Regions from separate parts of the Homo sapiens genome. Here regions 2, 3 and 4 are each reported to be linked to region 1. Evidence: microRNA targets listed by miRTarBase, many of them from high-throughput screens and not tested one by one. Region 1 holds a microRNA gene; each other region holds the end of a gene's coding sequence.
The links. The annotated mature microRNA hsa-miR-4721 reads UGAGGGCUCCAGGUGACGGUGG and lies in region 1 at 1,111-1,132, shown strand. An mRNA with a match to its seed (bases 2 to 7 or 8) in the 3' UTR can be bound and repressed. Matches are read on the target gene's strand: a 7mer-m8 pairs with bases 2 to 8, a 7mer-A1 pairs with bases 2 to 7 and ends in A, and an 8mer does both.

Region 2: miRTarBase lists OGT as a target of hsa-miR-4721. Seed matches in the 3' UTR shown: 7mer-A1 at 867-873.
Region 3: miRTarBase lists MBD6 as a target of hsa-miR-4721. Seed matches in the 3' UTR shown: 7mer-m8 at 947-953.
Region 4: miRTarBase lists PRORP as a target of hsa-miR-4721. Seed matches in the 3' UTR shown: 7mer-m8 at 1,037-1,043.

Annotation. Positions count from the first base shown.
Region 1 is chr16:28,841,905-28,845,058 of GRCh38, reverse strand. It overlaps MIR4721 (microRNA 4721), which reads left to right and starts at 1,052; the gene lies at 1,052-1,140. TUFM (Tu translation elongation factor, mitochondrial) reads left to right here. Exons shown (of 10, transcript NM_003321.5): 4 at 4-108; 5 at 197-361; 6 at 508-640; 7 at 725-829; 8 at 958-1,109; 9 at 1,204-1,323; 10 at 1,911-2,648. The coding sequence ends at 2,084. RefSeq lists a silencer at 3,059-3,154.
Region 2 is chrX:71,573,462-71,576,461 of GRCh38, reverse strand. OGT (O-linked N-acetylglucosamine (GlcNAc) transferase) reads right to left here. Exons shown (of 22, transcript NM_181672.3): 22 at 570-2,842. The coding sequence ends at 2,668. Among named protein-coding and RNA genes, the nearest start is that of GCNA, 3.5 kb to the left of the region's middle.
Region 3 is chr12:57,528,923-57,531,922 of GRCh38, forward strand. It overlaps MBD6 (methyl-CpG binding domain protein 6), which reads left to right. Exons shown (of 13, transcript NM_052897.4): 12 at 24-87; 13 at 238-1,226. The coding sequence ends at 312. DCTN2 (dynactin subunit 2) reads right to left here. Exons shown (of 14, transcript NM_001261413.2): 14 at 1,129-1,853. The coding sequence ends at 1,767. Among named protein-coding and RNA genes, the nearest start is that of MBD6, 7.6 kb to the left of the region's middle.
Region 4 is chr14:35,273,229-35,276,383 of GRCh38, forward strand. It overlaps PRORP (protein only RNase P catalytic subunit), which reads left to right. Exons shown (of 8, transcript NM_014672.4): 8 at 207-3,155. The coding sequence ends at 338. PRORP-PSMA6 (PRORP-PSMA6 readthrough) reads left to right here. Exons shown (of 15, transcript NR_182666.1): 8 at 207-1,063. Among named protein-coding and RNA genes, the nearest start is that of PSMA6, 18 kb to the right of the region's middle.

The sequences.
Region 1 (3,154 bases):
CAGAATATGATCACAGGCACTGCACCCCTCGACGGCTGCATCCTGGTGGTAGCAGCCAATGACGGCCCCATGCCCCAGACCCGAGAGCACTTATTACTGGCCAGACAGGTACTCAGAGCCTGGGTAAGGATGCAAAAGGGAAGAGTGGGGAGTTGGGCCCCTCTGTATATTGTCCCTGTCTCTCTGGCATCTACAGATTGGGGTGGAGCATGTGGTGGTGTATGTGAACAAGGCTGACGCTGTCCAGGACTCTGAGATGGTGGAACTGGTGGAACTGGAGATCCGGGAGCTGCTCACCGAGTTTGGCTATAAAGGGGAGGAGACCCCAGTCATCGTAGGCTCTGCTCTCTGTGCCCTTGAGGTGAACGCGGGGTCAGGCAGGGCAGCTGCTGCAGAGGGTGGGGCTGGATGGGCACCCAGAGCTCTGCTTTGTGTCTGGGAAGTGGCTCTTGATAATCGAGGGAAGTAGAATGGGGATTTCAGAGTCCTGGCACTTCCCCTCAACAGGGTCGGGACCCTGAGTTAGGCCTGAAGTCTGTGCAGAAGCTACTGGATGCTGTGGACACTTACATCCCAGTGCCCGCCCGGGACCTGGAGAAGCCTTTCCTGCTGCCTGTGGAGGCGGTGTACTCCGTCCCTGGTGAGGACTCTGTCTGTTCCCACGCACTCTCTCTAGCAGAAGCCTAGCTCGGGGTCCCTGATATCCTGTCTTATTCCCTCCCAGGCCGTGGCACCGTGGTGACAGGTACACTAGAGCGTGGCATTTTAAAGAAGGGAGACGAGTGTGAGCTCCTAGGACATAGCAAGAACATCCGCACTGTGGTGACAGGTTTGGGAAGCCAGTCTGGAGAGCAGGGCCTGGCTGAAGGGTGGCCTTACCCCGGCAGATCCCTTGTGCCTTCCCTCTGTCTCACATTCGCCTTCCTTCTCCCTGCTCCTTTTCCCTTTCCGTCCTAGGCATTGAGATGTTCCACAAGAGCCTGGAGAGGGCCGAGGCCGGAGATAACCTCGGGGCCCTGGTCCGAGGCTTGAAGCGGGAGGACTTGCGGCGGGGCCTGGTCATGGTCAAGCCAGGTTCCATCAAGCCCCACCAGAAGGTGGAGGCCCAGGTGAGGGCTCCAGGTGACGGTGGGCAGGGTTGAGCCAAGCTCTCCCCAGCCTCCAGCCAAGCCCAGCTCACCGTCATTGCTTGCTCTCCTCCAGGTTTACATCCTCAGCAAGGAGGAAGGTGGCCGCCACAAGCCCTTTGTGTCCCACTTCATGCCTGTCATGTTCTCCCTGACTTGGGACATGGCCTGTCGGATTATCCTGCCCCCAGAGAAGGTACGGTGGGTGGGAGGAATGTAGGGTGGAGGGGGGACTTTTTATATTACCTTTGCTTCACTCATAGTTCCAAAGATACACTGTGACAACCCGAGTGGCTTTATTTCCTTAGGTGGAAAGGGGCTGCTTGCCGCTGCTAGCCAACAGAAGGGGCATGGCCCATGGACTTAGGGGCGGGAGTCCTCATCCAGTGTGCCCTAAGCTGAAGCAGGTTAAAAGTTTAGCTCTGCCAGCATGTACCCACAGAAAGATTTCCTAGAAAAGGTCTCTTCTTTTTGAGCGTTTCATTATATATGAAGGCTTAAGAAGTTCTGTGACCAAGAAACCTGCATAACCCACAACTTCCTAGACATTTTTTTCTCAAGAACATACCTTAGGAACACTCATCACTGGTCTCTTTTATGTTTTCCTGTCTCAATATGCTGTTTGCATCTGCCTGACAGCCTGGGATGGATGAAGCTGTCCCCAGGCAGAACCATTCCCCTGCTGCATTCTCCCATGACTCTTAACCTCCGAGGTAGCCAAAAAAGACTTAAGGAATGAAGGCACCCTGGAGGCCACGCATGATCCTTCTCTTCCTACTCTAGGAGCTTGCCATGCCCGGGGAGGACCTGAAGTTCAACCTAATCTTGCGGCAGCCAATGATCTTAGAGAAAGGCCAGCGTTTCACCCTGCGAGATGGCAACCGGACTATTGGCACCGGTCTAGTCACCAACACGCTGGCCATGACTGAGGAGGAGAAGAATATCAAATGGGGTTGAGTGTGCAGATCTCTGCTCAGCTTCCCTTGCGTTTAAGGCCTGCCCTAGCCAGGGCTCCCTCCTGCTTCCAGTACCCTCTCATGGCATAGGCTGCAACCCAGCAGAGGGCAGCTAGATGGACATTTCCCCTGCTCGGAAGGGTTGGCCTGCCTGGCTGGGGAGGTCAGTAAACTTTGAATAGTAAGCCAGCCTGTGTCCTGTGTCCTTTGTGCAAATTGGAGAGGATAGGGGAGGACAAAAAGGGTGTTGAACCCCAGACAGATGGGGAGCTTGTGAGATCCCAGAGCAGTTTTAACGGATAAATCAAGTCCAGTGAGCTTAGTGATTGCCTAGACACAGTAGGATGCCGTTATTCAGCCTCCTGGGAGATAGTGGGAAAGAATGTTCTATCGCTCTGGAGCCAGCATGGCTTCAGCTCAGGTGCCAAACCCATCTTGTTTCCTCGGAATACTAAGTGAATGTCTAGCATCCATTCACATTCTGTGGGAACAGGGACTGGACAGGCATACCTCAGATGCTGTAGGTTTGCTTCCAGACTACCACAATAAAGCAGGTCACAAATTTTTTGATTTCTCAGTGAAGTTATGTTTATATTATAGTTGACCCTTGAACAATGCAGGGGTTAGGGGTGTCAGCCCTCCTCCATGCAGCCACAAATCCACATATAACTTGTTTTTGAGATGGGGCCAGCTTTGTGCAGTGGCAGTATCATAGCCAATGACTCCATGATGACTTGAAATATAATCAGCATTGGCAATTTTCGACGGTCTCTATGGGGAGGCTGAACAAAGGGAAAAAAAGAGATATAGGGTCTCACTGTCACCCAGGCTGGGTGCGGTGGCACCATCCTAGCTCACTGCAGCCTTGGACTCCTGGGCTCAACCTTGGTCTCCCCAACTGCTGGGATTAGAGGTGTAAGCTACCGTGTCTGGCTCCTCACATATAACTTGACTCCCCCAAAATGTAACTAGTAACCTGCTGCTGGCCAGAAGCCTCGCTGATAGCATACAAACACATACTTTGTGTGTTATATGTATTATATACTGTATTCTTAAAACTAGAGAGTGGCC
Region 2 (3,000 bases), not on the chromosome of region 1:
AAGCAGAGAGGTCACAAGCAAAAGAGGAGCAAGCATGAATGGGTGTGTTGGGGATCACAGGCTTTGTCTTTTTTTTTTTTTGAGATGACATCTCACTCTGTTGTCCAGGCTGGAATGCAATGGCACGATCTCAGCTCACTGCAACCTCTGCCTCCCGGGTTCAAGCGATTCTCCTGTCTCAGCCTCGCATGTAGTTGGGATTACAAGCGTGTGCCACCACTCCCGGCTAGTTTTTTTGTATTTTTAGTAGAGACAGGGTTTCACCATGTTAGCCAGGCTGGTCTTGAACTCCTGACCTCAAGTGATCCACCTGCCTCCGCCTCCCAAAGTGCTGGGGTTACAGGCGTGAGCCACCACACAAGGCCACTTTGCCTTCTTAATGGATCATAAACTAACCCCACCCTCTACCAGACCTGGCTGAGAAAACAATTCCTAATATCATAGCTACAGTAGGGAAATTTGGTCCTTTCATGCTGTTTGGAGGTGTTTAAATATAGGTTTCATCATTGGATGACACTATTCTTCAGTCCAACACTCAATATAACAGGATACAAAATACATCAGCCGTATTAAAGGGAAATCATTCATTTATTAAGGATCGCAAGACAACATCTTAATTTCTGTAGTACGATTTAAATGTTTTACTTCTTTGATAAAGCAGAGTACAATAGAAAAAAAACAATTAGTTTCCAGTAATATCTATATCTCTAATCAGAATTAAGTCTTCCAAGACATATTACCTGGAAATAAAAGCCTGTTACAATAAGCAAAGCTTCAACCAGAGCGGCTACTTTTCGTGCCAGGAAAAAGTTCATCCCTATAGGAGGAATGATGTGCTATGTAAAATGGCTGTAAGGTCACAGCCTTGAGGGCATTGGAAGTATATTATCCTATTCCACATTAAGTATTTCAGCGAATTTCAAACATCAGTTTATCTGCAACCATGCTGGCAACCTTTAACTGATATTTCAATCAACCGGTAAAAAATAAATTAAGAAATCCCTTCACGGATATTCCGTGATTTACACTGTTAAAAGGTACACTGTTCATTAACATGTAATTCTGGTTCAGAATTACCTTTGAGACTCCTTGCTCAAAATTTGGTTAACAGTAAGAATCTTCCAGAAATTCAAGTTCTTATTAATCAATAATTTGTCAGCTAGGATACATTCAGGCATCAGCTGCAACTACAGAATAGGTGCACAGCCTCAGCGCTTTGGAAAGACATAATCTAGAACACTACTAGCAGACAAAAAATTACCTGCAACTGGATAGCGTAAGTGCAGTATAGCGAGACAAAACATATATTCATATGTTGGCTTGTTTAAGCCTCAAACCCTCGACCCTTTGTTGAGATCCCATAATTTTATTCCTATGATTTTAATAACTCAAGTTCCAGGAGGACTATAAGTCTAATTTGTACTCCAAACCAAACAGCAGTGCAGTTCGCTACTACTGAGGCTGAATCTGTACAGACTTCAAGACCAAGTCCAGAAGACAGTTATTATCTAAAAAATAATTACTTGAATACATAGATGATCCTTCAGAGATTTTACCTATAACCTATTTCTTGATGAAGGTTATTTAATGCACTGGAGATAACTGTGACTTACTGATCAAATACTTGAATACTTATACTTACCTGGGATTTCATTTCTGCTGAAAGAAATAGGAAGAACAGGACTCACTTAAAAAAAAAAAAAAAAAACTTTAGAAAGGAAGGTAAAAATCTTACACACACTATCACTTTTGGAAGCAGCATAGAAGGGGCAGTCAAGGGTAAAACACTGGTGAAACAGGTCAAAATTAGGAAAAAAAAAAAAACTATATTATTATCAATGACAGTACCACAACTGTGCCCTTGATAATTAGTAATCACTCCTAAAAATCTTCATTTGGCACCAGATGGTGTGTTTAAAACACCCTAGGATGTTTTGAATCAGGCTTGATTTTGTTAGTTGAGTTACAGGAGAATTTTAAGGGTGAGGGTATGGGGGTCAGGGAAGAAAAGGAAATGGGAAATGGACCAGAAAAAATCTTGAGTCATCATCTAAATCAACAAAGCACTGATAGCTCCAAATATTAGGTCAGACACTAAAACGACTGATATAGGCTCAAGTGGTTTATAAAACCTATAAAAAGACTACACCAGCAAAGTCCCTGTCAATCTGTCAGAGTTCAGAAACTAAAACAGGGAGTAACATTTTAGCTTAAAACCTTATCTCAAGAGAATCATATACACTTCACATGAATAAAAATACCTGAAACCAAACATTTTTAAAAGCTCCAGTACCCAAAATATAAAGAAAAAAAAATCCAGAAGACTGAATCAATCCATGGAATCACAAAGCGGCCGGACAATCTATATCTCCCCTCCACACTAACCATCCCATGGAAGACCAAGGGAGATCAGACCTTCCAGACCTATGCACCATCTGGTCGCCGCAAAATTCTACGGAGATTCCTTGTGGAAAAGCAGTTTCCCATCTTTTGTGTCTCTCCCTACCATGCAGGAAGCAAGTCTGGCTGTGCTATTCTATTACCATTATATATCACCCATCTGCAACAAGGTACTGTACAGACAAGTAAGAAGTATGTTATCTAGTTCCCTTTCCCCCAGAAGGTTGAGGCTCAGGTATAGGGGTAATTCTCCTGTGCAGTCTTTATTTATGCTGACTCAGTGACTTCAACAGGCTTAATCATGTGGTCAGGTTTGTTGCCAGCTGCATAATGCTCCCACATCTGTAGATAGAGCCGCTCTAGTTCCATTGTGTATTGTTTGGTGTTGAACAGAGGGCTAGATATTCTTTGCTTCCAGACTTTGCCACGAACTTTCTTCAGGCTGGGTAATAAAAAACAAGAACCCAGTTTACAAATCAGAGCAGAAACTCAGAAACACACCCTATAAATACCTAGTCGCATTTGTGGCAAAAAATGCATGACCAAACTCTACGCTATCTCATTTCTTGATTGGCTTCGTGCTAAAAAGGGAAGGGTCAC
Region 3 (3,000 bases), not on the chromosome of region 1:
ATCATCTGTGCCCCTTATTGCAGCCCTACCCGGAACAGCAATAGCTCCCGCCAGGACATTACCTTGGAACCCAGCCCTACAGCCCGAGTAAGTGTGTGTTTGGGTGGATGGGTGGATGGGTAGGGTGTAAGGGATGAGGCGGCAGGAGGAAAGGAGGGTTAGAGGGAGTGGGGAGAAAAGAAGACTTCCTGATACCTAGCAATTGACCACTTCTATCAACTTCCCCTCTGATATTAGGCAGCTGTCCCTCTGCCTCCCCGGGCCCGCCCTGGCCGTCCTGCCAAAAACAAGAGGAGGAAACTGGCCCCATAGCAGCCATACCTGGAGCTGGATCTGACCCTGATTGGGGAGAGCTGAGTGCTGAGCCTTGGGAGCCCCTGCCAGCCACCTGCACCTGTGGACAGTGGGTGGGGGCACTACTCCCCACTCAGAGCACAAATGCAACTCCTTCCCCTACAATCCCATCCTGAGCCATTGCAGGGGGCAGGGAAGTTCACCCCCCCCCACCACCCCCCCGCCCCCCCGAAGCCATGTCACTGAAAAGGCCTGGGGGGGATGGTATATGGCCCTTTCCCCACCAGGCGCTAAGGGGAACACCCCCTTCCCCAGGTCTTTTATTTGTTTAAGTTATTTTTGCACAAATGACTCTTTTATATTTAATTCGATTTCATTGCCTCCCTTCTTAAAGCCAACAGGCTCAGTTTACAAACCTGTGAGCTACTGTTGGCTGCTGCCCTCCTTCCCAGTGAAAGGTACAAAGCAATAAGCATCATGCATCCTCCCCTTACCCCTCCAACACCCCTCTGCCTCTGGCTCAGGTTGCTCAAAGCACAGATCCTCTCTTACCCCGTCCCCAGGTTTGAAACACATAGCCTCATTTCAAGGTGTAGCCAGGTTCCCCCGACTTTCCTCTGGGATATAAAAAAGGGGGTAAGGGGGCAAAGAGAGCCCTCTGGGCCTCTCCTCCCATACACACTACACTGCCCCTTCTCCCCCCATCAAAACGCTCAGAGACGTTGTGATGATGCGACTGAGGATTATGCAACGTGGTCCAACCGGAGCGGCCAGCATGACCAGCTGTCCAGGGGCTGCCTCCTGCCTTTTCTTTTGTAAAGACAAGACCCTTGGGAGTTTTAATTCTGTTTTGTACTTGCCCTGTGGGGCCTCCACTGCTTTTCTATGGGAGACACTCTTAATTTAACAGATGAGAATATTTTGAAACTCTGGCTCTGGCTCTGTACTCATTTTTTATTTAGTTCTTTGGTAAGAACAGGTTACAATTTAAATCCATCTCTTGTAGTATAGAGTGGCTTAGATTGCCTGTTATGACGAATGAATATCTATATCCTAGTGCTGCTTCCTCCCCAGGAAACACAGCAGAGGCCACACAGAGTACAACAGCATTTAATGGTCAGAAACAGTTGTACAGTATTACAGTCAGCCACAGAAGCTGTGTTGGGGGACAAGACCCAATCCTTCCCCACACCAGGCAAAGCAGTATTGGACATGAGTTGGCATGTGGCTGGGCCCACGTCCTTATCCCCCAGGCCTGAGGGGAGACCACCTTCTGATGATAACCAACCCCTAGCTACCACTCTGTATTCATCAGGGGAGGGGTATAAACCCCACATGCAAGAAGAACCCTTGCCCCCAGTGTCAAATGGGATGGGGATGCTAGAGTTATAGTAAAGGGGAAACCCTATGTAAGCTGTTAACAGAGTTCACAGGGGTAGGGATAACCCCTGTTCTCCAGCTCCCAAATGTGCTCACTTTCCCAGCTTCTTCATCCGTTCATCAATGCTGGCAAAGTTCCCCTCAACTGTGGCCAGGTTTTCACGCATGGTTGTCTGCACCTACAAAGTGGTAGAGAGGTTTTACTCTTTGTCAGGTCCAGTTGCTTAACTGGATGAGGACCTGAAGGAATTCTCTGAGAGAGAAGACAAGAAATGGAAGCACAATTTGTGGGCCACAGAGGGGGGATGTTTATAGCACCAATTTTCAAGCTACCCTTAGAGTACATAGACCACGCTTGGGGTGAGCCCAAGCAGGTAGGACTCGAGAATTCCCATCCTGACTTCAGCCAGAACAGTTTTTTAAAATCTGTTTTATGTAATGAGAGCTAAATAAGATTTTGTTGAAATGAGGGTTTCACTGGTTCAAAATGTTAGAAAACTGCTCTGGAGGAAAAGGATATTATTCTAAGTCCTTTATATATTTTTTCATTTATCTCAGTGATCCTGTGATTGATGCTGGTCTCTCGACTTTAATGCTCCTTCCAGCACTGAGAACAGTGCCTCCAACAGAAATTGGGACTTGCGGCCAGGTGCAGTGGCTCACGCCTGTAATCTCAGCACTTTGGGAGGCCGAGATGGGTGGGATCACTTGAGGTCAGGAGTTTGAGACCACCCTGGACAACATGGTGAAACCCCGTCTCTACTAAAAAAAAAAATTAGGTGTGGTGGTGCGTGCCTGTAATCCCAGCTACTCAATAGGCTGAGGCATGAGAATTGCTTGAGCCCGGGAGGTGGAGGCTGCAGTGAGCTGAGATCACACCACTGCACTCCAGCCTGGGCAACAGAGCGAGACTCTGTCTTAAAAATAAAAAACAATAAGAAATTGTGGACTTGCTGTGTGCCAGGCATTACTAAAAGAATGAAGGAGCTAGGTGAGGCTCATTGTCCAGGGCCAGAAAGGAAGCGACAGAACGAGATTAGGGCCTGCTTCTGACTTCAAAGCCCGGATTCCTTCCAGTGTACTGTGCTTATCAGGGAGAGTAAAGTTGAGACGACAAAGGGAAAGAGTGGGGTTTTATAAGAAAACATGTTCACTAGCCCCTAACAATTTGCCCATATTATTTCACCTCATCTACATAACTCTGAGGGAGGTATAATTTCCCAGATGGAAAGATGGAGGTTCATAGGTTAAATAAGTTGTCAAAGGGCCTTCACATTGAAAGCAGGATGGAGACTCCAGACCAACCCCCTGCCACAACACCATGCT
Region 4 (3,155 bases), not on the chromosome of region 1:
TAAAAATGAGACCCCTCAAAAAAAGGAACTCCTAATATTAGGGCTCATCTTCACAGAGTTTGCTGCTGTTTGAAAATCCATTATTAAGTGAGATAATCCATTATCAATACTCTTCTGGAGCAAACTTGAGAAGTGTCAGAAAGAGAAATGGCCAAGTAGCCCTTTAGTGTTGTTCTCAATGTTTTGTTCTCTTTTTAATTCAACAGCGTATTCTCAGCTATGACACAGTGGTGCAAACAACTGGAGACTCGTGGCACATACCATATGATGAAGACTTGGTAGAAAGATGTTCCTGTGAAGTACCAACCAAATGGCTTTGCCTCCACCAAAAGACATAGAGATTCTTACCTCTATGCTAAGTTTGTGTTTGGGTACCCTCTAGGTTGGCATCAGAGGCTCTTGAGCTGGTGTTTGTTTAGGGCATTGCCTCTGTCCTGAAGATAAAAGGATTCTATTAACAGCATTGACATTGATTTTTTAATGAAATGAGATATATCTTTTCATAACCAGCTGCGTTTTTTTCCCCTAACATTTGTTTTTGGAGGCTTATCAAGAGTTGGAGAACTTAGTGTAGAGCAAAACCTGCATTTCTCCTACTGGGCCAGCTATTCCACTTAGCTTGGGTGACTAATAGTGCTTTTGGTATCCATTTTTTGCTACTTCTGACCTTGCCTTCCAGGCCTACCAATAGCAGAATCAATCCATCTGTCCCTGAGATACTCATGTTGTTTCAAATGCCTCCTCCCATTTCTGGCATAGTCTCATTCTCTGTATGTTATGCCCTATCCACATGGAATCATTTATCGTCCTCTGTAATAAACTGGCCAAGATACTAAAGGCTTACTATTCATAGCAGTTTTTAATTACTTATCATCCAATTATTTGGATTGGAGAAGAGGGGGCATTCACTCCTCTTTTTCTTATTTTTTTTGGAAATAGAGTCTCAACTTACTCTGTCGCCAGGGCTGGAGTGCAGTGACGTGATCACAGTTCACTGCAGCCTCAAACTCCCAGGCTCAAGCAATCTTCCTACCTCAGCCCTCCTGAGTAATTGGGACTACAGGCATGTATCACCAGGCTTGGCTAATTTTTTTTTTTTTTTTTGTAGAGATGGCTGTCTCACTCTGTTGACAAGACTAGTCTCCAACCCCTGGCCTCAGTCGATCCCCAGCAATTTGGGAGATTGAAGCGAGAGAATCACTTGAGTCTAGGAGTTCAAGACCAGCCTAGGCAACATAGTAAGATCTCATTTCTACAAAAAATTTAAAAATTAGCCAGGCATGGTAGTTTGCACACATAGTCCCAGCTACTTTGGGGGCTGAGGTAGGAGGATTGCTTGAGCCTCAGAGGTCAAGGCTGCAATGAGCCAACGTTGCACCACTGCACTCTAGCCTGGGTGACAGAGCGAGACCTTGTCTCAAAACAAAACAAAGTGCTGGAATTGCAGACTTGAGCCACAGTGCCCAGCCTCACTTCTCTAGACTATGATGGTTTTTTCTTCATTCTATAATCTCTTTTCCAAATTGGTTCAACATTTTGTGAACACTATTAATTTCATCATTCAGTATATGTGGGCTTTCTAAAATATGCCAATTTTTTTCCACTTAATCAAGTTTGACTTAATTTAACAAAGTGATTATATTTTAATAGTTACATTTCTGTTTTTTCCACTCACTAGCCAGCTTACAGTTTATTAGCCCTTGATTTCAGCTGAAAATATTCATGTCTGCACCCCTTCATGATAGTTCTTTCTTTACGTATACATACTGTATTCAATATGCAAGAACAGGCAAAAACTACTCTATTGTGATAAAAATCAGAATAGTAATTGCCTGAGGAAAGGGATATGAGAGAACTTGAGAGAACTTTCTCGGGGTGATGGAAAGTTTCTTATATTGATTTGGGTAATAGTAACATAGCTATATGTATATATTAGTTAAAATTCCTCACACTAAACATTTTAAATTGATATATTTACATTTATGACAATATACCTCAAAGTAAGTTAGGGTAAGAAAAGATAATTACTTACATGAAATAAACAATGACCTCTTTTATATCAAACCATATACATGTGTATAATTAGGGTATGTATTATGCACAGAGAAACAATTTAGGAAAATCCAAGGAGGGGACGTTTTATCTTCTTACCTATTTACTGAATGCAACATTACTGCACACCAAGACAAAAGAGCTCTCCAGGAAAACATTGGATATATTGAGAGCATTAAAAGATACTGCAAAAGCTCTAATAAATTCAGTCTGCTTATTTTCCAAATTTCATAAACTACATACTTAGGAAACTGTGCTTTCAGTGAGCTAAACTTCTTTTTTTAAGTAACTATCATAGTTTTAAGAAAAACATTTTAAGAAGACAAAAAGTATTTATTAAGCCCATCTAAAAGGCTAATGCAAATTCCCAAAAAAGGAGCACATAGAGATAGAGGAGGAGGCCGAAGTGGTGGCTCATACCTGTTAATTCCAGCACTTTGGGAGGCCAAGACAGGAGGATCACTTTAGGCCCAGAGTTGGAGACCAACCTGGGCAACATAGCAAGACCCTGTCTCTTAAAAAAAAAAAAAAAAGACGGGAGAAGCTACAAGAAGAAAACTAGAACTTTAGAGCAGGAGTAACCTTAGAGCATGTAAAGTCCATTTTGGAGATGAGGAACAGACCCAGGAAGATGACCTGGCTTCCCTGAATCCCACGGCTAGTTAGTGCAGACATTTCAGCCATAACCCAGCTCTTCTAATTCCCAAATACTCTTTCTTCTACTGGCACATAGAGATGGGGGAGGAGTCAGGGCATGGTGGCCCACACCTACAGTTCCAGCACTTTGGGAGGCCAAATGGGAGAATTGCTTGAAGCCAGGAGTTGGAGACCAGCCTAGGCAACACAGGGAGACCCGTGTCGACAAAAAATTTAAAAATTAGCTGGGCATGGTAGCACATGCCTGTGGTCCCAGCTACTCAGAAGGCTGAGGTGGGAGGATCACTTGAGCCCCAGAGGTCAAGGCTACAGTGAGCTATGATCATGCTACTACACTCCAGCCTAGGTGACAGAGTGAGACCCTGTCTCAAAGGGAGGGAGGTAAGAATGAGAAGAAGGAACAGGGGTGTACCTCTTTTAAGGGCCCAAGTATCCTGAATGGCTCA